3 linked regions of the Homo sapiens genome follow. The protein of the gene in region 2 purifies or fractionates together with the protein of the main gene of each other region. This does not show direct contact. Each region holds a gene or a part of one and is shown on either strand. Other genes may lie near its edges. The genes, in order: FMR1, HABP4 and GNL2.

Region 1 (8,234 bases), on a different chromosome or scaffold from region 2:
GGTGGACTTTGGCAAAAATGGTTTGGTTTGCAAGAGCAATGGAGAAAAAACTTATTTAACTTTTCCTACTTATAGAATCAAGGCAGCCTTGCGCTTGTTTAAACTTACTTGGCTATACACGTGTCTGATGTACATAATGTACATTTGTTTTCTAAACTAACTTTGTTCATTCTAAGATTTAAAAACTGATCAAACAAATGTGATAATTCTGTCATAAGTCACAAACTATAAACGATTTCTCCGTTTTTTTCTCTTTTACCTAAAATGTTTTCAGATAAATGTGTAATAAGTAGAGCCAAAGAAGCTTTAAAAAGTCATCTCATCTTACAATCCTTGATCTGGAATAATGCTTAAAGACTATAGAAGAGACGCATTTTTATTTTTTACAGATTTTATTAAGTGAATACAGTACGTTTGATTTGGACATGTTGTTGAACATTAAATTGCAGTTCAGAATACATAGAAATCCTCCCTTTTCTAGAGATTGTGTATGTGTGTAAATTTTTGTGCCTTCTGGTTCATGTACGTTTCCTTCTCTCCCTCAAATCGTTTAGCAGTTTCTTACCCCATTCTCCGTGATGTGCTTATTTCATATTGCATGCCTGTATCAAAACATCTCATATGCCCCATAAATATATATACCTACTATGTACCCACAAAACTAAAAATTAAAAAAAAAGGAAAAAAAAAGGCCTGCAACAAGAGAAGAAGAAAGAAATCAGATACCCTGTAGGTAGCTATCTCCAAAAGTTTTCAATAGTTGACTTAAGAAAACTACTGACTTGTATGTAACTGAAATCAGGAAACCTGTAGTGTAGAGTGGTTCCCCTGAATATGTCTCTTTTGGTAATCTAAGCTGTATTTCAGAAATGTACAGAAAAGGAGCTAAGCTTCTAAATGGATATAGCATATTTTGCATAAATCAAATTTAATATGAATCCATGATTCTTGTATGTGTAAATCTGCCTGCATTTATTTATGTCAGTAGTTGGTAATTATTCATCTTAATTTTTTTTTTTAAATTTCTAGGTGTGCCAAAGAGGCGGCACATAAGGATTTTAAAAAGGCAGTTGGTGCCTTTTCTGTAACTTATGATCCAGAAAATTATCAGCTTGTCATTTTGGTGAGCATTTTTGAGTTGTTTATTTTTAGTTTAATTCATCTGGGGCAATTGCCTTGATAATAATGTTGTTAATTTAAATCATTTAGTCCATCAATGAAGTCACCTCAAAGCGAGCACATATGCTGATTGACATGCACTTTCGGAGTCTGCGCACTAAGTTGTCTCTGATAATGAGAAATGAAGAAGCTAGTAAGCAGCTGGAGGTATGTCACTTTCCCTAGCACTGCTTGTAAGGGTACCTAGGAACGATTAACTGTATCATTCCACAACTTGAATATGGGGAGCTTGTCATTTATTTACTGCTTCTTAACAATTCCTTAGGTTCTATAGTTGGAAAATTGTACAAAGCATAATCATACTAAAGTTTCCATGCCTGAGGTTTCAAAATTAAACAGCAGCTTATGTATATTAAGGGACTTCTGGTACTTTCACTTTTACTAGAAGTTTATCAAAGTTGCTAATAAAATGCGGCAATGCTTCTTCCATATAACATGTTGTCATTAAAAATACTAGAGAATATTTAAATATCTAATCATATTCCTCTCATTATGTATGTTTATCTTTGTTTAAAAGGGTATAGAACTTCTTCATTCTAATTGGTTGTCATTCTTTAAAACTCCTGTCTTCAGATTCCCGCCAGAGGCTATTTCCCTAACTTACTATTTTGTCTCTTAAGGTGCATTTTATCTACTTTTATTAATCCTCCAATAATTTTCATCACCATATATTTGTTTTCATTGATAACTATCAAGTACGTCCATCCATTACTATAGAAACTAAGTGGATCTTAGATGAATGTGCCAGCTCTACTATATTCCTGTCAAATTCCAGAGTTCGTCATCATTATTCATTAGAAGGAAAACACCACACATTTGAAATAGTAAAGAAAAAAAGGAGTTCCAAACTGCATTTTAGGAGAAAAGGTAGTCAAGACTGTGTTCTTATAAAAACCCTGTGAAATTTGCCACCTGTCAACTTGATGTATGATGCTGAACTCTTAGCAGAAGGGGAAAAGTTTAATCTCCTTTTGCCACTTTGTTTTTTCTTAAGGCCATGGAGGTCTGTTTAATTGGTCTTTGCTCTCATTCTTTCTTGATGTCCCTGTGTTCATGATTTTGTGGTTCCTTCAGTGATTCTCTCATAACTTTTAGCCCAGAGCTGCCTCCTTACTTTGATTGTGAGTATTATGAAAATATACTCATATGCCTCTTAAACATCGAATTATTCTTAAATGATCTATCATACTTTTGGCTAACCATTTATCAGTGAATTATCAATGAAAAAGAACGAACCAGATTAATGAACCAGGACTCAAAAAACATGACTTCTTGAAAAGTCCTAGAATTATTTTATAGATTTTATTACTCTAGTCTAAAAAAAATGGGTATTGCACTTTTAAATTATTTATGCTAGTTGTATTCATTCATTCAAATTATCAGGTCTGTTGAACAATGAGAAACTAGTATGCATGCCTATCTTTCTTCACTACTAATATTAAAGAGATTTACATGTTCCTATAAGAAATTCCCATTTTTCAACATGAGCCACTAATACGTTTGGTTTTCATTAATGGCATGCTAGAACTGAACACTAAATTTTGATAATGGTATTTAAAGACAGTGGTTATCCACAAGTTTGGGATGTCAGTGTAACTTAGTTTCGTCATCACTGGATATTTACAAGTGCTCATCATAATTGTGGATCCAGATCACAAGGTCTTACGGACTCTGGTCTCATGTTAGCTTTCAGATGCTTACTAAGTTTTTAATTTTTGACATTTTTTGATTATTCAGTTTAACTACTGTACCAACAATTTTTGATTCCTTAGGTTTTGAGGGAGGTGTCATTTTAATGTCATTTCAACAGAGGAATGTTTAGACCACAGTACCTAATGATGTTATAAAAAATGGCACTGTTTCCAGAAAATATATACTGATACCTTTTAATAAAAATGAAGCGAATAAAATTTTCTATAAAGATGATATTTAAACATTTTTTTACCTAAATAAGTAACATTGAGTTTGTCAGACCGAGTGAGCTGGTTTTTACTGGGGAACATTTGACCTGCTTCTTAGTTATTATATTGCTGATGTCATTGGTTAACTAAGGCAGCCTTGTGATAAGTTTTCAGCAGTTACCTTGGAAAATGTCAACAAGTTCTTTCCTATTAACAAAAACATATAAAATGTCATAGACCTTTAGTAACCTAAAAAGTACTTAGGCTGTGAGAGGTATTTTCTAAAACCTGTTAGTTTTAACCTAAAACTATTAATAATTTATGGACCCCTCATATACAGGGTCAAGATAATTTACATGGCTGGCCTAAATACAGTTGTCGTAATAGTTGATAAAGTGTATTCATCAGACGTCCATTTCTCTTCAGAGTTCAAGGCAGCTTGCCTCGAGATTTCATGAACAGTTTATCGTAAGAGAAGATCTGATGGGTCTAGCTATTGGTACTCATGGTGCTAATATTCAGCAAGCTAGAAAAGTACCTGGGGTCACTGCTATTGATCTAGATGAAGATACCTGCACATTTCATATTTATGGAGAGGTAAATATTTTACTGCATAGTTTTTTTTTCCCCAAACAAGTATTTCAGCTGGCTAATCTTTTGTCTTAAAATGTTTCCCCTTTTATTAGGATCAGGATGCAGTGAAAAAAGCTAGAAGCTTTCTCGAATTTGCTGAAGATGTAATACAAGTTCCAAGGAACTTAGTAGGTAAGTCAGAAGTATCTGTTGACATATAGTACAACAACTAAGTTTAGGTAAACAGTTTATTTATAGTGATAGAATTCCATTTTTTCTTACTGGAGGGTATCATTTAATTGAAACATAGTCTTTGAAATATGATCTGTTCTTTTTTTTTATTATTTAAGTTTTAGGGTACATGTGCACAATGTGCAGGTTAGTTACATATGTATACACGTGACATGCTGGTGCGCTGCACCCACTAACTTGTCATCTAGCATTAGGTATATCTCCCAACGCTATCCCTCCCCCCTCCCCCCACCCCACAACAGTCCCCAGAGTGTGATGTTCCCCTTCCTGTGTCCATGTGTTCTCATTGTTCAATCGATCTGTTCTTACAGCATACAAAAAAATATTTGTTAAGTATGATGCTCAAAGGTTACATTTTCAGAAGGTATTCAAAAGAGATTGCTTTTCTAGTTCAAACCTACTAATACCTGAAAGGATAAATCTTGCCCAGCCCTCCTGACTGTATACCTTTTATATCTTAAAATTAAATAATTTTTCAAAATGAATGATATTTGGGGACTTTATGATTTGAAATAGATTTGTATTTGATCTTTCTTATGGGACTATAAAATGATAGCATTCATTTTAATTATCTCAGGGTTGAAGATCTGAACATAGGTTACTTAAATCTAAAAAGTTCCAAAGCTAGAAGAAACTTCAGATGTCTCTGGGACTTTCTGCAAAGTCAATAGTAATTCTTCATTTTGACTTGAGTAGTGTTTTATCACCATCACCATCGTGAGTATCAGCAAATATTTAGGAGCTCTTCACCAATACTCCTAAATGCTGCAGATATCTTTAGTAGAACATATCAAAACCAGGTGCAGTTTTATCAAGAAAGCTACATATGTTTTTAATTTGTAAATAAAATTGGGACATACTGCCTATATGTTTTTTATCTTTTAAACTTGAGATCATGGCCATTTTATATAAAGTAATACATGTTCTTTGGAAACTTTAAAGAAGAAAGCAAGGACTTCTCATACATTCTGTTTACGTAGTTTCAATGCTAATTTAGCCTGCTTTTTTGTCAGCATAGACTCATAAACATCTTCCTTGTCATTAACAAACACTAGAAATGATAAATGTATCTCCCAAAGAAAATTAGCTTGAAGATAAAGTGCAAATAGTAGGAAAATAATGCAGAAGTGTTAGCTCAACTGTGTACTACAGACAACTGGAGAAATGTGTTTGTAATGTTACTAAGGTAACTTGCATACCAATTGTATGTGTACAGAATGTATGCATAGCGCAAGATAAAGTGCTAATCTCAAGACAGTTGGGTGATGAATAATATTTATTTTCTTCTTTACAGCTTGTCAAGCAATTGCATACCTTTTGTAGTTAGAAAGGTTATTGTAAATTTAGGAATTCTTATGGAAAAAGAGCTGGTAGTTGTTTTGTTTTTTTTTTTTAATAGCAAATGAGTAGAGAATTATGTGTCAGATTCATTAAAGTTGGTTTTGAAGATGGCATGATGGTAGTGGGGAAAGTGCTTGGGCATTGGAGTTGGATCTGGATTTCAGTCCTACTTTATTCTTTGGTGGCAATGTGAGCGTGGGTCACTGTCTTAGCCCCCCTGAGAATTATTTTTCTTACCTATCAAATGTGATAATAGGATCCACCTCATAGAGTTGATGTGATAATTAAATTGGAAGATATAGTAGGGGACAATTCTGGACACAGTAGGGGACTCTGTTCTTCACCTTATTCAAAACAACTCCATTTCAGTAGAACAGAATCACAGTAAATTGCTCTTTGGGATTTGGAAATAAGTGTAATGTAGAATTGGATTATTTGCTATTAAATATTAAAAGTAGATTCTACCTGTGGTTACCTGGAAAGAAGAGGATCTCAGAAATAACCAGAAAGACTGCTAAAAGTAAATCAGCCTTGTTTTTGTTTTGTTGTTTCTAGTTAGTAAAATGAGATAATTCTGTTTTAGAGATGGTCCACTGCAACACTGGGAACGTTGGAACTTTTCAGAAAGCATTTTTGTGTAAGATTCTGCAAGGCAGATCTTTAGAGAGGTGTCATAATCAGTTTTGCATGTGTTTTGTTTGAGTCAACCAACGTTATTTGTGATCTCTATTTTTCACAAACTCTCTTTGGTATGTGCACTAATTTATCTTTTCATTAAAATTGGATTCTTCACTCACTAAGAATGAATTGGTATGACTATTCAGTCAGCTATAGTTAACACACAGTACTTAGGATAATTAAGATATTATCTTAATAAAAACATCCCCAAATCTCATTTTTCATTTTGTTAACTCACTTAGATCTTTATTAAAGTCAACATTAATTCATGAAAATGTAAGTGTTGCAGTTTAAAATCAAACTGTGTGAAGACTCCAAGTAGCTTCTCTCACCTCACCTTTCCCCTTTTCGTTATAGAAGAACAGAAATAATTGACAGAAGGACCTAGACCAAGAATCCTGATTTAATGGTGTCAGATCTGTTCTATGACCAGTCAAAGAGTTTCTAGGGGTGAATGAGGCAGCCACACACAGCAAGAATGTCAAAGCTATGCTCTGATTACAAGAGCCACAAGAATTTTTTGTGAGAAGGCTTTTCACTGAGTTCTTATCTAGCATTGGCTCAAAGCAAATTTTTGCTTCCATCTTTTCCCCCAACTTTGCCTTGAGCTTTGCCTTTAAAGGCGAAAAGGAAAAAATGGAAGATGAGATGGTGAGGGCAAGCACATGGTGGATGTGGCCAATGTAAGGGTACTTAGGTACCTTGGGTGAGCCCTCAGAATCAGATGTAGTTCACATGTACATTTCCAGAATTAGTAATTCTTAAGTTTGTAATGTCTTGCTTTACCACTCGTGTCATGATGCAAATGAAAGCAGTCATTTTCCAGTAATGTATATGATTGTAAAATAAATAAGGAAATGATCAAGTACCTATTTTTTACTGGTACTTGAAATCCCAAGTTTTAATAGATGTTACTGAAAAATACTTAAATTGGTTTAAAGCTTTTTCATTGTGGTTTTGAGTTATCTTAAAGTGGGTTTTCTTAATCTTTTACTCTGTGACTAATCCCTTCACTTTTTAATACATTGCTAAAGTTTGTAAGTAATGCACAGGAGTGATACTCTGTTAACACATTGACCTTGAAGAATTTGTATTCCTTTTGGATGTATGTATAGCTGCTTAAGCCACTTTCAGACTTAGATTATCTTTTATAAATGTGCCTTCCATACAGAATTCTGAAAATATTTACCATGGACAAAGAAGCAGATTTAAATCAGGTACAGACAAGAATTGAAAGTGTTGAATAAGTGAATATATTTCCCATTCTCTCTACTTTTTTCTTAATTCTTATAGAACTTTGCAGAAAGAATGATACATACCACAGTACCAGCAAGTTTAAAGCGTACCCTTTTGTGCAAAAATAAGAGGTTATCTTTGAACTGCCTTAAAAATCCAAAATTACCCTATCAGTTTGCAAGTATTAATCAACTCTGGTACCTGACCAAAGGAGTTTAAACAATGATGTCCTAATTAAACAGAAAACCAGATTAACCATCTTGTTGAAAAGAGTCTCTACTTTGGTTTTGAAATCTTACAATTCAATACATACACATACACATAAAAATATCTATCTATATGAATGTAATAGTTTACAGTAGGGCTGTGCTTACTGCTTTGAGGTATGTGTTTTTAAAACCAAACTTGATTTATTTATTTCTTAGGCAAAGTAATAGGAAAAAATGGAAAGCTGATTCAGGAGATTGTGGACAAGTCAGGAGTTGTGAGGGTGAGGATTGAGGCTGAAAATGAGAAAAATGTTCCACAAGAAGAGGTATGTTACAGTGCGAATATTTTGTGGCACATATAATAAAAGTAAAAGTTTTTTATGTGATATGTTGAGGACCTCTAATATGTGCATAAAGTGAATGCAAATATTCTGATTATCAAGCATGCCTGCTGTAATTAATGTTATAATTGTAGATAATGGCCCTTCTCTGTCCTCTAATGCAGTGAGTTTGGATTAGTCACTTTATTGAATTCTTTTTTCCTGATCTTTAAAATGGGTAGTTATAAATTTTTAAATATGAGACATACATCACTGGGTCGAGTGTTAATGGCAATTTAATAAAATAATATATATGTAAATGCTTCGTAAAGCACTTTGTAAATGTTAATGTTGCTGACAAAAGCAAAATTGGAACACAGGTTTTCTGGCTTTCATCTTTTCACTTTTTTAGTGTGGGGATTGTGTAGTATGTGTGTTTATTCTGTGTGCTTTAAATTTATTTCTGTGCTTAATATCTCTTCCCCATCCTCCTTACCTTTAAATTCTGTAACCCTTTTATCTTCATAAATATATGCTTTTTGTAG
Region 2 (8,873 bases):
GTCAGACATTAAAAACCTACATTTTTGGCCAGGCATCATGGCTCACGCCTGTAATCCCAGCACTTTGGGAGGCTGAGGCGGGCGGATCACCTGAGGTCAGGAGTTCAAGACCAGCCTGGACAACATGGTGAAACCCCATCTCTATTAAAAATATAAAAAATTAGGCCAGGCACAGTAGCTCACACCTGTAATCCCAGCACTTTGGGAGGCCAAGGCAAGCAGATCATGAGGTCAAGAGATCGAGACCATCCTGGCCAACATGAACATAGTGAACCCATGCCTCTACTAAAAAATATACAAAAATTAGCTGGGCATGGTGGCGCATGCCTGTAGTCCCAGCTACCCAGGAGGCTGAGGCAGGAGAATCGCTTGAACCGGGGAGGCAGAGGTTGCAGTGAGTCAAGATCCCGCCACTGCACTCTGTCTCAAAAAAAAAAAAAAAAAAAAAATTAGCCGGGCATGGTGGCAGATGCCTGTAATGCCAGCTACTAAGGAGGCTGAGGCAGGAGAATCGCTTGAACCCAGGAGGTAGAGGTTGCAGTGAACCGAGATCATGCCACTGCACTCCAGCCTGTCTCAAAAAAAAAGACTCTGTCTCAAAAAAAAAAAAAAAAAAAAAAAAAAACCCTTTTCCATAGGAAAAGCTTGTGACTTCCACATTCTTTCAGGATTAACATTTCTATGATATGTCAAACATGTTTTATTTTTGTCTACACTAAGCATTCACTTACAACATTCTAACTAGATAAAAAATTTTGAATGTTAGAAAAGTACAGTGCTTCTTATCAACTAGGGTTACAAAACCTTGAGAGAATAGCTCCTTGACACCCATTATAGATAAATTTAGTACAGTAACTACATAAATGGAAATTAATGAGCTGTTTGCTCCTGAAATAACACATACTTGAAAAAGAACTTGAATGATAAAATTTCCGTTCTAACTACAAAATCAACTAAATACCTTTAGTTGATTTCAAAAGCCAGATCACTTAGACCTAACAACTGACAGAAAAAAAAAGTTACGAGTGTACTACATGACAACATCAAGTGCAGGAAACAGGTTGCAACCCAGTTTATATCATTTAAGTTTAGAAAGAAAAGAAATAGCTCTGTGCATTTATGTATATAAATGCAAAGTGTTAGTAGGAAAAATAAGAGGATTTTCACTTAACCTCATACATTTTGGAATTGCTTAAAATTCTTAACACAAAAATGCATGACAATTTTAAAAAGGCTAAAAATCAATGTATTAACAGCACTAACTCGTCTCACGTTTTTCTGAAGCACAGAATTTTTTTTTTTTTTTTTTTGTGACGGAGTCTCGCTCTTTCTCCCAGACTGGAGTACAGTGGCTCGATCTCGGCTCACTGCAAGCTCCGCCTCCTGGGTTCACGCCATTCTCCTGCCTCAGCCTCCCGAGTAGCTGGACCTACAGGTGCCCGCCACCACGCCCGACTAATTTTTTGTATTTGTAATAGAGACGGGATTTCACCGTGTTAGCCAGGATGGTCTCGATCTCCTAACCTCGTGATCCGCCCGCCTCGGACTCCCAAACTGCTGGGATTACAGGCGTGAGCCACCACACCCGGCATTTTCATTTGTTAAAAAATAAAGGGTGAAGAAAAGCTTAGCCTTCCTCAATTCCTTTATTATATTGATGTAAATAAGTTTAAGAGAAAAAGATAAAAAACAGGATATAAAATGCACAATGTATCTCCAGTCTCACTGTTTAGATAGGCTCAGAAATTTACTGGCCTACCAAAGTGTCGTGAGATAGTAAATAACATTTTTTTAAAAATCATTTTCAACATCTTTATTGTAGTGACTTGATTCTCAAGTGATGACTCTGGATTTAGCTTTTCACAAATAAAGGTAAACATTACCCAGCTGCACATCAAAGCCCTAATACTTAAACCTGAGACGTTTCCTCAGGGCTGCGATGCACAATTTTTATCAAGCAAGGAACAAACCAATAAAGCCAAGTTGAACACACTGGCAAACGTCGGCAGGAATGGTCAACCTACACATCTTAATCCTAACACTCTGCAAACCTTGGGACCGCTGCCTCATTTCAAGAAAACAGGAAACACAGGTGGAGTGTTGCTGGCTCTGCCACTGACGCAGTTCGGTGAGAGAATGAACTCTGAAGCACCCTCCCCGTCCACAGGCAGCAGGACACCACGCTGCGCACCGGTTTTTCTTGCTAAATAGGGAGTGGGGAACTCCGAATATTCTTGCTGGAAAGGTTAAAAACGCTTTTCTTAAAGCAGCCTTGAGCTATTTATAAGTTGCACATCCCATCAACACCACACGAAGTACTGAAATACGATGCCGGCTGCCTCCTGGAAGCTACCGGACGGAGAAGGGGCGAAGGCGCCAGGCCGGACCGCGCCGGGGACCCCCGCCCGGGCCCCGACGTCACAGGCCGCCCCGCGGTCGCCCAGGCCTCCGGCATCACAGAGGCCCCCAGCCCCGGGACCAGGCGCCCTCCTCCTCCCCACCGCGCTCTCGGGTGGCTCCGACCTCAATCTTGCAGAGGCTGGGCTGGAAGATGAAGGTCCCCGCCAGGTCTGGATGTGGGAGCCCCGGGGTAGCGACCTCAGCCGTTCGCCCCCACACGCCACCCAGACAACCTCCCTCAACTTCGTCCAACTTGCCGTAGAGCCTCAGTGCCAGGGTTCGAGGGCCCTATCCCACCCCAAGCCAGCGTTTCCCCCGGAGCCCCGCACGAGGCTGGCGAGAGCTGGAAGGGGTGTGACCCCTGCCCCTCTCCTCCTACCTTCGGCGGCCACCAGGACCCTCAACTCTCCCTACTGTTCCCGGGCCCCTCCTCCTGAAACCGGCCCCCGGGACCCCAGTCTCACAGCGGGCCGAGCCGTGGTCCGCTAACCCCGCTGTCCCCGCGTACCCGGCGCCTGCAGGCCGCCCCCGGGGCTATCGGGCCGCTGAGCGACGGGCGCCGGGAGGCTCTTGCGCTCCTTCTGCGACTCCCTCCGGCCGCCCGCGCCGGCTCTGTGGCCCGAGGCCCCGGCTGGGCTCCTGCCGCCGCGGGGACCGGCCCCGGCCGCCGCCGCCGCCTCGTCGCGCCTCTTGCGCTGCAGCTGCTGCTGGCGCCGGCGCTCGGCCTCGCGCAGGATGTCGAACGGGTCCGACTCGTCGTCCAGCAGCTGATGGAAGCGGTTGGCCACCACGCAGCCGAAACTCTCCTGCATCGCGGCGCCAGCGGCAGCCACGGGACTCCCCAGAGCGCCCTTCATGCCGCCGCGACCACTGCGGGCCCGGGAGGGCAGCCCACGCGAGCGCGTCTCAGCGAAGCCGGCGGCCAGGACCCATGCCGCCCGCTCCGCCGCCACCGCCCTCCGGGCCCTACCCTGTCCGGCCCCTACCGGCGCCCGCCCCCGCGGCGCCGCCGCCGTCCGCCCCGCTGCGCCAGACAGCCAGTCAGCGCGCGCGGGTGCGCCCCCTTTCCGACACGGCGCGCCTGGAGACCCAATCACCGACCGGCTGCTGTCACGTCACGCGACCTCTGGGCCCCGCCCCGTTCGCTCAGCAGGGAGGGGCGGGGCCCAGGGGCGGAGCTACTGGCTGGTCCAGGCGGCGCCGACGAAGCGGTGGGGTCTCGGCTGTGTGTGCTTTCTCCCGGGACTGCGACCGTATTTGCTATGGGCCACTCTGCTTTGAAGCTTATGTATACATTTAGCCGTGCAACAGCTACATATTGCGCACTTACCGTGTGCCAGGCATTATGTTGTAGGAAATACTAGCTCCGTGTTGTCACAGATCTGAGTCTGTAGATGGAGAAAAAGTGCCCTGAAGGACAGGCGCAGAGCTCTCTACGGGCTGCAGCAAAGGGATCTGACCTAATTGGGAAATGACAGTTAAGCCGAGGGAGAGGGGTGACAAGGGGTTGGAGGAGGAACAGCAAGTGCAGCAGTCTTGAGGTGGGATGTGCACAGCCTATTCAAGCTCAAAGTGGTCTCTATTCTAAGAGCAGTGGGAAGCAAGTTTTGAGCATGAGCAGATTTGGGTTTGAAAAGGCCACCCTACCTGCACTGTGAACTAATAGTTTGGAGGGAAATACAAATGGATGCTGGGAAGCCAAACATGATTGTTGCAAAGCTCCAGGGAAGAGTTGATAGTGACTGGGATTAGGATGGTGGCGGTGGAGGCGAAGAGAGTAGATGGATTCAAAGACTTGGTGATGCGCTAGAGGTGGTGATGAGGGAGAAGAAGATACGGTGACTCTTATTTTCCTGGCTCCAGCATCTGAATGATAGTATTAGTTACCACTGGAAGACACTACTTTAACGGGAATCATTAATTCAGTCTGGGACACGTTGAGGTTTGGATATTTGTTTTCTTTTGAGATATTCAGTTGAGGCCTGGAGCTTAGAGAACGCCGGACTGGACTTCCTCCAGGAAATCTTTGCATAGGCAGCGGTGGAGACACGCTTGGCTGCCTATCCTACAGCCGTTCTTTCCCTCTTACATTTTTCCAGAGCCTGTATTTTGTTCAGGCATCATATTCCCCAGGGGAAGAGGGCCCCTTCCAGCCTCAAACTTGATTAATCATACATTATTCATTGCACCTGATTCCAATTCCTTGCCAGTAATTGGCTTAGGAATAGGCTGTGGGGCAAATCGGGCAGAACAGATCTGAGAAGTATTCTGGGAAAGTTTTTCTTGCACCTAACAAGGGATTGAGAAGGGATCTCCCCCCCTTCTGTTCCCTGGTCTTTGTTCCATGAGAAGACATGATGCCTCGGGTGGCTGTTCCTTAGCGTGGCCATGAGGATGGCAGAGCAGGATAGAGAAAGGCTAGATCCTTGATGAGGTTGAGCTGCCGACTGGACCCACTTGGGAACCTCCCTACTTGAGGCTTATGATGTAAGGTGACAGATGTGATTGCGCTTAGTTGTGTTTGCTTGTTTCATCCGAAAGCATCCAGTTAGAGCATCTTGCCAGGTGCTCTGTGACCAGCTTTTACTTTCCTTAATAGCAAAGGAATTCCTAATCCTAAATGCTGTAAAGTCTGTGTGTTACTCACTTATTGAATTTTGTGTTATTCCCAAGGAGGACAGGGATGATGCCTGTCTTATTCACTGCAGTATGTATTCCCAGTGCTTGGCGTTCTAAGCAGCTATAGAGTAGGTTTTCAGTAAATATTTGTTGAATGATTGAAGAATTTAAGATATTTGGTCATCTCCTTTTGAGTGAGCAAAGATTAATGCCTACGCTTTCTACCCAAAAGAATTAAAAGCAAGTGTTCAAACCAAAACTTGTACATGAGTATTCATAGCAGCACTATTCACAATAGCCAAAAGACAGAAACAAATAATATACATGTCACCCGATGAATGGATAAATAAAATGTGGTACAAAAAATATTATTTGGTCAAAAAGGAAGTATTGATACTTGTTACAACAGGGATGAAACTTGAAAACATTGTGCTAAGTGAAAGACGGACAAAAAGGGCCACACGTTGTATGATTCCATTTATATGAAATGTCCAGAATCTATAGAGACAGAAAGCAGATTGGTGGTCACCAGGTGTGGGGGTTGGGAGTGTTGGAAAGTAACTGCTTAATGGGCATGGGAGTTTCCTGTGGGGTGATGAAATGTTCTGGAACGAGATAGTGGAGATGGTTGCACAAAATTGTAAATTTAGTAAATGTCACTGAGTTGTACACTTTAAAATTGTAAAAATAGTAAATTTTGTGTAAAATTTAGTAAAAATAGTAAATTTTTTGTAAAAATAGTAAATTTATCTTAATGAACCAGAGTAAAAATAGTAAATTTATCTCAATGAACCAGAATCACTACATGCAACAGAGACCACACTTTGAGAAGCACTGCTTCAAGCTAAAGTTATCTTTGGTATCTTTAAACTGCTCATCACCAAACCACAACACCAAGGAATCATGATCATGTGAGAGAAGGGCCTGTCGTCTTCCCACTGGGCATCTGGAGTTAGCCTGCTCCCCTGTTTTCTTCTTATCTTCCTTACAGCATAACCAGCCACTGTAAGTTCTTAAAGCATGCCCTGTGAGCACTGCCGCCTCATTTCCAAGTCACAAATGCCCCAAATGGTTGTAAGAGAACCAACTCTCGTTGCTTCAGGATTCAGAACATCTTTAGAACTGAAATAGAGATGAGTAATCCTTACCTGGTATTAGATGGCCACAAGTTTCTTTTTTTTCTTTTTTTTCTTTGTGTGTGTGTGTGTGTGTGTGTGTGTGTGTGTGTGTGTGTGTGTGTTTGGCAGAGACAGGGTTTCACCACGTTGGTCAGGCTGCTCTCAAACTCAAGTGATCTGTCCACCTCAGCCTCCCAGAGTGCTGGGATTACAGGTGTGAGCCACCGTGCCCGGCCATGGCCATGAGTTTCTTACGGGGCTATTGACTACTGCACAATTTACTGAGAGTAAGGTTAAGCACCCTCATATTTTTTACTGATTGTTTTTTCTTCTAGGAGATTGCATCCTTAAATGCATTCCTAAAATACAACTCTACCACATTAGCATAAGTTATTCACACATTGTGTTTAATGTGGTCAGTTTAATAGACTGATCTTTTTCATAATCTGATATATGAAAACAGCTTTTAGTAATCATAATACCAAACAATAACACACATCTTATAGCATGGAAAAACAAAGCACATCAAAAATGCTGTGAAGTGTGGATGCTGAATAATACTACCAGCCCTTCCATGATTATTATATATATTCCAGTGGTTATTTATTACCACCAATGGAAATGCAGTGAAACTTAACTGTATACAAGATGTAAATTACCTTGAATTACTTAATAGAGGAGTCCCATTAGGAATAATAAAATACACTAACATCTTCCAGATTGACTTGGAATTCACAGAACCATTAATTGAGAGTTTAGACACATGTAGCTTCATTACTTTCAATTACATGCAGGGAGCAACACCTGGGTGAGAGCCAAGGAGGAGAGGCCAGGTCAGGCTGGCGAGGATGTGAGTTCTTGTTAATTACCAAAGCACTGCATTCAATCTGCTCTGTTTTGCCGCTGAATTCCTGCTCTCTCTCTCCTTACCTTTTTCTTGTCCCTAAAGTTAGGATGATTATAACCTGTCTTGCATTCTTCATATAGTTGAATGGAAGACAAGACCAAAGAAGTCAATTGAAAAAGGTAAAAATAAATCTCACTATTTTATAATTGTTTCTACTTGCATAATATATGCAAAAACAAAAGTATTTTTCCTAACTCTAAGAGGATCTGATCTTTTATGCCAGTTGAGTCAATTATGACAGGATCAATGAAGTTACATAATAGTTCCTGGTTTCACTATTCTAAGGGTGATAAGTGAGTTCAAATTCAGTTTCCCACAACAAATGAATAAAGCAAGTAGCAAGTACATAGGCTCAAAGTCAGGAGTTGTAGAACCATAAACCATTAGTTAACAATCAGGATGCACCAGAAGAACTTCTAGCAAGCGGAAATCCATTCATGATGATCAGATACACAATGTTTAAATCATGAAATAATTTCCCCAACCTGCTAATAATATTTGTATTCTTGGTGTCATTGAGGGTCTTTCCAACTTGCCTTCTTATGACAAAAGGTTACTGGATAGCTTAGTGCTTTGTATACTCAAAGCAATTGTGCCAATAGAAATTTTTATTCTCTCCCATTCCTACTATTAAAAGTTTGATCTCTAGTTGTAACTTTAATCAAGGCCAAATAAATAATTGGGGATTTAGAACTTTTTATTTCCTCATTTATTCTAGATCCTTCAAGTTGTGAGCAACAGAAAACCCATCTGGAATAAGTAAAACCAAGGACTTTGTTGGCTCAATAAAAAAAAAAAAAATCTACCAGGAACAGTGATTCGCTCCAGAAATTCCAGACCAGCCTGGAACTCCTGAGCTCAGGCAATTTGCTTGCCTCAGCTTCCCAAAGAGTTGGGATTACAGCCATGATCCACCATGCCTGGCCAACTTGACTTTATTTATTCATTTATTGAGATGGAGTCTCACTCTATTGCCACAGCTGGAGTTCAGTGGCGCAATCTTGGCTCACTTTAACCTCCACCTCCCAGGTTCAAGTGATTCTCCTGCCTCAGCCTCCCCAGTAGCTGGGATTACAGGTGTGCACCACCACATCCAGCTAATTTTTGTATTTTTAGTAGAGACAGGGTTTCACCATGTTGGTCAGGCTGGTCTCGAACTCCTGACCTCAGGTGATCCACCTGCCTCAGCCTCCCAAAGTGCTGAGATTACAGGCGTGAGCCACCATGCCTGGCCGACTTGACTTTAGTGCATGCACAGAAGTCCCAGAATTGAATCACGGGCCTATGTCTTGGGTCACACATACACCATTGAACCCAGTTGCTGTACTGAAGATCATTTAATTCTCTCATCATCCAGGCTTGATTACCAGCCCAAGCTGGAGTCTGATTGAAGTCATCACCCCCTGAACCACTGGAACTGAGAGTTGATGGGGTGGTTCCCTGAGGAAAATAAGGTTTCTAAACCAGCAGGTAGGAATAGATGCTGGGCAGGTAGCAAACAGAATTCCTTGCATGTGATGATGAGCATGAATGTGGTATTGCTGTGCCTCTTGTCACACTGGATTATTGGCCTGCATTATAGTTCTTTGTCCTTATTTCTCCTCCCTAAGGTTAGAAATAGTGTCTAATTCATTTCTGAATCCCTTCCTTCCCTTCTCTCTGGTTTCATCTTCAGTGCCTTTTATTCAGGAAATATTTGTTGTTTGGTGAATGAATTTCTTGTTTATATACATGTACTTATGACAAGTAATTTTACATGTGTTAAAAATAAAAATGTGGCTGAGTGTGGTGGCCACATTTTTACTTTAATCTCAGCACTCTCGGAGCCC
Region 3 (8,234 bases), on a different chromosome or scaffold from region 2:
GTCCGTGACTTCACCCTGCACTCTTCACCCAACCAATGACCCTCACTCCAGCCCACTCCAAAACCCTTAAAACCCTAACCCCAAACTCCTCGTGGAAATGATTTCAGGATTCCTCCCATCTCCTCCTTTGGTGACCCTACGGTTAAACTTCTTTCTCTGCTGCAACCTGGTGGTGTCTCAGCATATTGACTTGCTGTGTGCATTGGGCAACAAATCTATTATGGTTACAATAGTTCTTAAGAATTATCTGAACTACTTATCTACACTTACTGACTACATACGGAGGAAGGGCTGAAGACAATGCCAGTGTTTCCACACAGGGTCCCAAGACAGCAGTGATACGGACATCCAGAATGACCCTAGAATCCAGCTGCTAACTCAAAACCTCCAATGGCTTCCCACCATGACACCCTCTCCTGGCCCACGACATTCCAGCCACAGTGACCTCCTTTCAGCATCAGGACACACAGAGCATACTCCTGCCCCAGCTGCTCTGGATGTGCTGTTCCCCTTGCCTGGAACATTCTCCCTAGATACTAGCATGGCTCCTGTCTCATATTAAGGGCTCTGCTGAAGTGCCACTGCCTCAGAGGCCTTCCCCGACCACCCCAAAGTACTCCTCATCTCCCCCAAACCCCTTAGCCTGGTTTAGTTTTCCTCACAGCACGCAAGACTTCCTGACATTATATGTTTATCTGCCTACTGTCTCCCTGTGATATAAATGTCACACTTCCTGGCACAGAGCTCCTAAGACCCTTGGAATTTCCCAAGCGATGGGTATCTTTTTTATTGATTACAAGCCCCTTTCCACCACACCTGAGTTTATGCTAATGTGGTGACTCATGGTAGACCCCTAGATAGCTTCAGGATGGGGGATGCGCTGGTCACCAGAAAGACAAAGCACTTGACCACATGGTTGGTGCTTTCAGCCACTCAGAGGAGAGAAGGGAGACCAGAAATTGAGTCTATCACCAACTGCCACAGATTTCATCAGTCATGTCTATGTAATGAAACCTCCATAAAAACCCCTACATGATGGGGTTTGGAAAGCTCTGGGTTGCTGAACACATCAATGTGTGGAGAGGGCATGGAAGCTCTGTGCCTCTCCCCCATACCTTACCCTGTGCACCTCTTCCACTGGCTGTGACTGAGTTTCATCCTTTATCATAAACCGTTAATTGTAAACACAGCACTTTCCTGGGTTCTGGGAGTCCTTCTGGCAAATTATCAAACCCCAGAACCCCTGAATTTGTAGTTAGCCGGGCGTAAGTGTGGATAGCCTGAAGCTGCCATCTGAAGCAGGGGACCTAGTCCTTAACTTGTGGGGTCTGTGCTAACTCCGGGAGTTAGTGTCACAACTGAATTAAATTGTTGGGACACTCAGCTGGTATCTGAGAACTGCAGAACTGATATGGAAAAAAATTATGTATTTGGTGTCAGAAGAAACCACACACTCCCCTGCTGGAATATATGTGCAGGAGAGCAGCAGCTTGTCAGTTTCTCACCACAGCACCACCAGTACCCAGAAGAGTCTGTGGCCAACAGGAGACACTCAATATGGGATTGCTGGGTGAATGTATCAGTGAATTAATGAATGAAAGATGCAATACACATGAAGAGGGAGAGAAATTTTTGTTTGGTTGTTTGATGGTTTGGGCAGGGAGAAGGGAGAATGTCAATTAACATCAGTTTCAGGCTAACTTTCAAATGCTGCAGAATACATTCAACTGAAAATACCTAGCTGCAACTGCAACTTGGAATGGGGTCAGGTGAGAGGAAACCAGCACTGTATGGACCCAACGACACTAGCAAGCATAGATGCACAATTTGAAGCCACCATTTCAAGAGACTTGGCTGGGTTCTGAAAAAGGTCCTAGAACCAGAAAGGCAAAACGTTAACGTTGAGCCTTGTGGCGGCCCACTGCCAGGGTGAGGGAAATGGGGATAGTAGGAGAGCTTCTGGCCCCAGCCTTCAGTCTTCTTTCTCCGACTATCAGTAGTACCACTCTCCTTTCCCACTGGATCACAGGTTTTTTGAGGGCCAGGGCTGTTTTTCGTTCCTATATTCCCTGTGCCTGGCACATAGTCGATGCTAATAAATGTTTGTTAAACAAATGTTATCTTAGCAATGATTCTGTTTCGTAAGCATAAGAAAAGATACAGGTACCAGAAGATCACTTACATTTAATGAGCCCTCTTTTTCCAAGGCCCTAAAGGCTAGTATCTAAGTTTGGTCTTCTCTCATATGTCTACTTATTAGTCTCCAAATGCACCCCCTAGCAAGGCCATGGCACTGGCACTCTAGAATGAGAGAGGGTGGAGTGATCGCCATGGGCCAGCAGTGGCTCCCAACAGTGCTTCACCCTCAAAAAAATTTTTTTTTATTTTTTTGAGATGGAGTCTCCCTCTATTGCCCAGGCTAGAGTGCAGTGGCACGATCTCGGCTCACTGCAACTTGTCTCCTGGGTTCAAGCAATTCTCTTGCCTCAGCCTCCCGAGTAGCTGGGACTACAGGAGCGTGCCATCATGCTAGGTTAATTTTTGTATTTTTAGTAGAGACAGGGTTTCACCATATTGGTCAGGCTGGTCTTGAACTCCTGACCTTGTGATCCACCTACCTCGGCCTCCCAAAGTGCTGGGATTACAGGCGTGAGCCACCCATGCCCGGCCCCAAAAATATTTTTATATATTTAAAAAAATAATAAAATGAGAGACACCGCAGCTGAATGAATACACGCTCTATGAAGAGAGACAATCACAAGCTACACCAAATCTAGGTCAGGACCCATGCTCCCCAGAGGTGGGCCCACCCTGCTCTTACCTGGGGGGCCACAAGTGGCTCTGCATTGGGTGGCTTGACAAAGAAAGGAATCCGGCCCCTCTGCCAGTCATTGAGGACCATCTTACCCACAGTCTGCAAGTCGGGCTCTCCACCCTGAAAGGTCACAAAGAGATTCCCAATTAAATTCAAAGGACCAAAACCACCTACCACTTTGGGGGTATTTCAGTTGTCCCAGGGGTTCATCATCACTTAAGTGACAAGTTTCACACTGCTCATACATGCATACCAAAAAAAGGCCCATATCATATACATACATGCTTGTGACAAGTATCAGTCTAAATTCTCACAAACGCCGGGTCACCTTTAGTAACTTCCCAGTCCGGAAAGCGAGCTTCTCAAGAAAGTCCTCAGCATTCTCCCAAGAATCAATCTTGTATGTTTTGCTGATATATTCTGGCTTTGCTCGTTCAAGTACAGCACCAATGTGGTCTTCAGGACTCTTAATTTTTTCTACTTGAACCTAAATGTTAATAGGAAATCTCTCACTTACAAACTTTGTTGTGGAAGCAGTGAAGTTCCCAGTGTCCTTTGCAGCACTATTTGAAAATAGACTTCAACATCACAAAGCTCGTGGAGATTGGCAGGAGCCTGTCTCTGACGGGGCTAGACATGGTCAGCTGCAAGGAGCACTGCTGAAAGCTGACCATAGCCACGGAGCCCAGAACTCAGCTTTAATCCCCACTCACCACAAACTAACTGTGTGGCTGCCACAGTTTAAACTTGGAATGCTTCATGTTACTCACTTGCAGAAATGGTTAAAAGCCTGCCCATCCCAGGACACAAAAATAATGGAATAGTTTAAGAAAGGAGAGGAGGAATGTGTACAGGATGTATAGCCAGAAGCATGGTCAAGGTTAAGTGGAACCATTTACAGTTTTTCAGTCGTATTCAGAAACAAGTGAGGAAATGACTGGGTTCCAAAATGACTCAACCCATAAACCCACGAAGACGAATTATCGCTAAGCATAAACAGGCCCTGCTTCCCTTTGGATCCTGTGTGTAAACTACAAACTCTTTTGTGGGATGATATTGACCAGATATGCCCATGGTTCCACTAATTCCTCAAACAGCTTATGCTGAGAGGCTGCTGTTCAGCATCATGTTCCTAAAGTTTGGTCAGACAGGCTGACCCCAAACTGCCTTCTTAATAAGTAAAAAGGAAAGGTATCCAGGGTTCCCTATAGAACACTCCCCCGCAAACACAAACAGCCTATCAGGGCCAAATACTCACAACTCCTTTTAGCACAATGTCTGTCTCGGAGTCCTCAGAGGGGTAAACCACACCTGGACAGTCAATCAGGAATATCCGACGCATCAAAGTAATATACTGCCAGACCTGAAGTCAGAAAAAAGTCAGAGATGTCCTGTATCAAACACTAAGAGTCTAATTTCACAAACCCCTGATGCTCATGTATGAAGCTGGAAAGGAGGAAGGGGTGAGTCAAAGAAAAGCAACGCGCTAAGTAATTAAGCTACTAACTCTCTCATCTGTGCCGTGCACAAGATACTTCCACTAAGTGTAAACTATAGTTTCCATCAGCTAAGAGTCTAAAAACAACACAGAGACAGGATTTCCATCTCGTATTGTGCAATTATACCCGGTGAACCTTTCCTGAGTTTTAGAAGTACTCTTGAGAGCTTAGTACTGCTTGACCTCATTGCCTTTAAGCAAAACCATGCTGTTCCCCACTATGTGTTCTAGGATATGACCCCCAACTTTCAGAACCTACCTTAAGTTTGAGGCTTCTTAACCCAGGCATCAAATATTCTTGGGTTAGTTTTGTTTATCAAAATAAAAGGCTGGAGTGATAATTTAAAACAGATCTAAATATGAATCACATTAACTAACACAGGCCAAAGCCACACGGGGGCATATAAAATACTCTCAGTCTTATCAAAGTGGGCAGAAACAACTCTGATACGTTCCAAACTATTATATGGTGAGCTAAACTCCTAGTGGTGGTCTGCATTCAAGAGAAGCAGAGAGAAATCAACAAGTCCTAAACAATCACTCTCTATGAAAAGAAAATATGCAAAAGTAAGGTCACCCTGCGCCCAACGTACCTTTGTTTCACCTGCAATGGGAGCCACGTTGCAAACTTTCTTAGAACGCAATGTATTTATCACAGAGCTCTTGCCAACATTTGGATAGCCAATGAACCCAACACTGATCTGTTTCTTGTCAGTGTGCAACTGTTCAAAGAGAGAATACACAGCACATACATGCAGTCATATATATCCCTTTGGACAAGTAGGTTGTATTACTTTGTTAATATCAAGAATACAGTGCAAAACTGTTGATACAACTTGATCTGAAGCCTAGATACACACCACCTACATAATCTGAGTAAGCTGGATACATATGCTTATTAATAAATCAGAGGTGAGTCATTTCCTCAGTCATGCAAGTGAAATTATCCTTGTATGTGTTAAGGTTAAAAGTATGTAGGTCAAGAAATAAAAGAAGGCTCGGCACAGTGGCTCACGCCTGTAATCCCAGCACTTTGGGAGGCCAAGGAGAGCGGATCACCTGAGGTCAGGGGTTCGAGACCAGCCTGGCCAACATGATGAAACCCTGTCTCTACTAAAAATACAAAAATTAGCCAGGCATGGTGGCGCAAGCCTGTAATCCCAGCTACTTGGGAGGCTGAGGCAGGAGAATCGCTTGAACCTGGGAGGCCGAAGTTGCAGGGAACCAAGATCATGCACTGCACTATAGCCTGGGTGACAGAGACTCCAGTCTCAAAAAAAAAAAAAAGAAACAAAAGAAGAAAAACAGCTTGTTAGTCACTGATTTAGAACAATGCCATCTATTGATAAAACATCTTCGGGAAAAAGAATATGAACAGGTTCATCAACTGGACAATCCCACAACTCACCCCCCCTTTTCTTTGCATAATACATCTGCATTTCCACTGCCAAAAATAAATAACAAAAGAAAAAAAGCAACCTTGAAAGTTACGACTACAGGGTGAAAGTCTCAAAAAGGCAGAGCTTGCTATCAAGAAGAGGGCCTACAAACGAATGGAGGCTTCCGATTAAAGATGGTGGACTGAACATACATGCTAACCCCGTTCCCTCACCAACTCCACTAGAATGACAGCAGTGGACATTAACACTTTTAAACCAATAGAACCAAACATACTGAACCAGAGAATGAGATGGAGATGAGACAACAAAAACTAAAGTGATGTTAAACAAAATACTAGATGCTTAAAAGTAGTATCAAACTTGGCCCATTACAAAATATAAAAGCTAAGTGGTTGTAAAGATAGAAAAACTAAAGATCCAGCAATAATAATGACAATGAATCACAGAGATTCATTGGGAATCACTGGGAATTGGTGGTAGATCCCTCTTAAGATAGGGCTGAAAACAAGGACCAGCAGATAGTCTGCCAAAGCAGCCACACTTCTCCATCCCCTCCCTCATTCAGGGTGGGCACACAACTTCTCTACTCTCAAAGAAATCCAGGGCCTATGAAAGTGGCTTTTGGATTTTTTGAAATGTCACATGTTTGAAAGTATCTGTAATCTTCAGACTTGAAAGGGATCCTGGATTTAGAGATAATAACAGTATTCCCAGAATGATTAATTGAAAATCTAAGTATTCAATAGTGAGATGCCCAGTCTACTATTCCCACTGAGTTCCCAGAACTCTAGCAGCCAGGATTCTATACCCCTAGAGCTAGAGATTGAAAGATTCTCTTCTGGGGAAACTCACAAGCCCAAGAAAAAAGACCTACAGACACTGGTATCTACAGGATGTCCTCCCAACAAAAAATTTGGGTCCCAGTCAGGCACAGTGGCTCATGCCTGTAATCCCAGAACTCTGGGAGGCTGAGGTGGGCAGATCACTTGAGGTCAGGAGTTTGAGACCAGCTTGGCCAACATGGTGAAACCCCAACTCTACTCAAAATACAAAAATTAACCAGGTCTGGTGGTGCTTGCCTGTACTCCCAGCTACTTGGGAGGCTGAAGCAGGAGAATTGCTTGAACCCAGGAGGCGGAGATTGCAGTGAGCCTAAATCAGGCCACTCCACTCCAACCTGGGCAATAGAGCAAGACTCTGTCTCAAAAAAAAAAAAAAAATTAAATTAAATTAGAGTCCCTATTTAATCACCTTACAATGAAGTCTATCAGTCAACAAGGCCACTCCATGGAGAAAAAAAAGAACCTATCAGCTTTTTAATGCCTTACTCTTTTTTTTTTTGAAACAGGGTCTTCCCTTGTCAACCAGGCTGAAGTACAGCGACACAATCACAGCTCTCTGCGGCCTCTGTCTCCTGGGCTCAAGCAATCCTCCTGCCTCAGCCTCCTGGGTAGCTGGAACCATAAGTGTGCACCACTATGCCTTGCTAATTTTTTTCTATCTTTTGTAGAGATGGAGTTTTGCCATATTGCCCAGGCTCGTCTAGAACTCCTGAGCTCAAGCGATCTGCCTGCCTCATCCTCCCAAAGTGGTGGGATTATAGGCATGAGCCACTCTACCTGGCCTAATGCCTTACTCTTAAATATAAATAGAGAACCAAGAATAAACATTTAAGTTGACTCTACTTGCGGGTCGAGGCTGCAGTGAGCCATGATCGCACCACTGCACTTCAGCCTGGGTTAAGACAGAACAAGACCCTGTCTCAAAAAAATTTTTAAAGTAAAAGAAAAAATTTTTAAGCGTGACTGTAGCAGAAAACACAAAAAAACCCACAAAAATTTGGAGGTAACAGAATCAATGCAGACAGGAAAATTTCAAAACGTCATTAATGATACTGTGACTGTGAAATAAGATGTAAAAGGAGGCAGAGCAAATCAGAATTCAACAAGAGCTCTCAGAAATTAAAAATTAAAAGCAATTGGCAAAATAAATTTTGTGACTGGGCAGCTGGATGATCAAAACAAGGAAAGTGGCCGGGAGCAGTGGCTCACGTCTGTAATCCCAGCACTCTGGGAGGCCGAGGGGGGCGGATCACCTGAGGTCGGAAGTTTGAGACCAGCCTGACCAACACGGAGAAGCCCCGTCTCTACTAAAGATACAAAATTAGCCAAGTGTGGTGGCACATGCCTGTAATCCCAGCTACTCGGGAGGCTGAGGCAGGAGAATTGCTTGAACCTGGGAGGAGGAGGTTGCAGTGAGCCGAGATCGCGCCATTGCACTCTAGCCTGGGCAACAAGAGCAAAACTCTGTCTCACAAAAAAAAAAAAGTACCCAGAAAATAGAGGAAAATGTCATATATGTACCAAAAGAAAAAATATATAGGCCAGGTGCAGTGGCTCATGCCTGTAATCCCAACACTTTGGGAGGCTGAGGCGGGCGGATCACGAGGTCAAGAGATCAAGACCATCCTGGCTAACATGGTGAAAACCCGTCTCTACTAAAAATACAAAAATTAGCTGCG

Evidence for each region.
Region 1: the proteins of HABP4 (region 2) and FMR1 purify together in Homo sapiens (affinity purification with mass spectrometry; 2 studies listed by BioGRID and IntAct, with this or other methods). This does not show direct contact.
Region 3: the proteins of HABP4 (region 2) and GNL2 purify together in Homo sapiens (affinity purification with mass spectrometry; 2 studies listed by BioGRID and IntAct, with this or other methods). This does not show direct contact.

Annotation. Positions count from the first base shown.
Region 1 is NC_000023.11:147,928,919-147,937,152, forward strand, and holds part of FMR1 (fragile X messenger ribonucleoprotein 1), read left to right. Parts: intron 1-1,029; coding exon 1,030-1,123; intron 1,124-1,209; coding exon 1,210-1,326; intron 1,327-3,506; coding exon 3,507-3,677; intron 3,678-3,766; coding exon 3,767-3,845; intron 3,846-7,585; coding exon 7,586-7,695; intron 7,696-8,234.
Region 2 is NC_000009.12:96,444,664-96,453,536, reverse strand, and holds the start of HABP4 (intracellular hyaluronan-binding protein 4), read right to left. Parts: upstream 3,369-8,873; 5' UTR 3,258-3,368; coding exon 2,909-3,257; intron 2,349-2,908; exon of another isoform or gene 2,071-2,348; coding exon of another isoform or gene 2,052-2,070; intron 1-2,051. UniProt on the Homo sapiens protein: Ribosome-binding protein that promotes ribosome hibernation, a process during which ribosomes are stabilized in an inactive state and preserved from proteasomal degradation.
Region 3 is NC_000001.11:37,571,522-37,579,755, forward strand, and holds part of GNL2 (nucleolar GTP-binding protein 2), read right to left. Parts: intron 5,036-8,234; coding exon 4,907-5,035; intron 4,179-4,906; coding exon 4,074-4,178; intron 3,303-4,073; coding exon 3,144-3,302; intron 2,936-3,143; coding exon 2,822-2,935; intron 1-2,821. UniProt on the Homo sapiens protein: GTPase that associates with pre-60S ribosomal subunits in the nucleolus and is required for their nuclear export and maturation.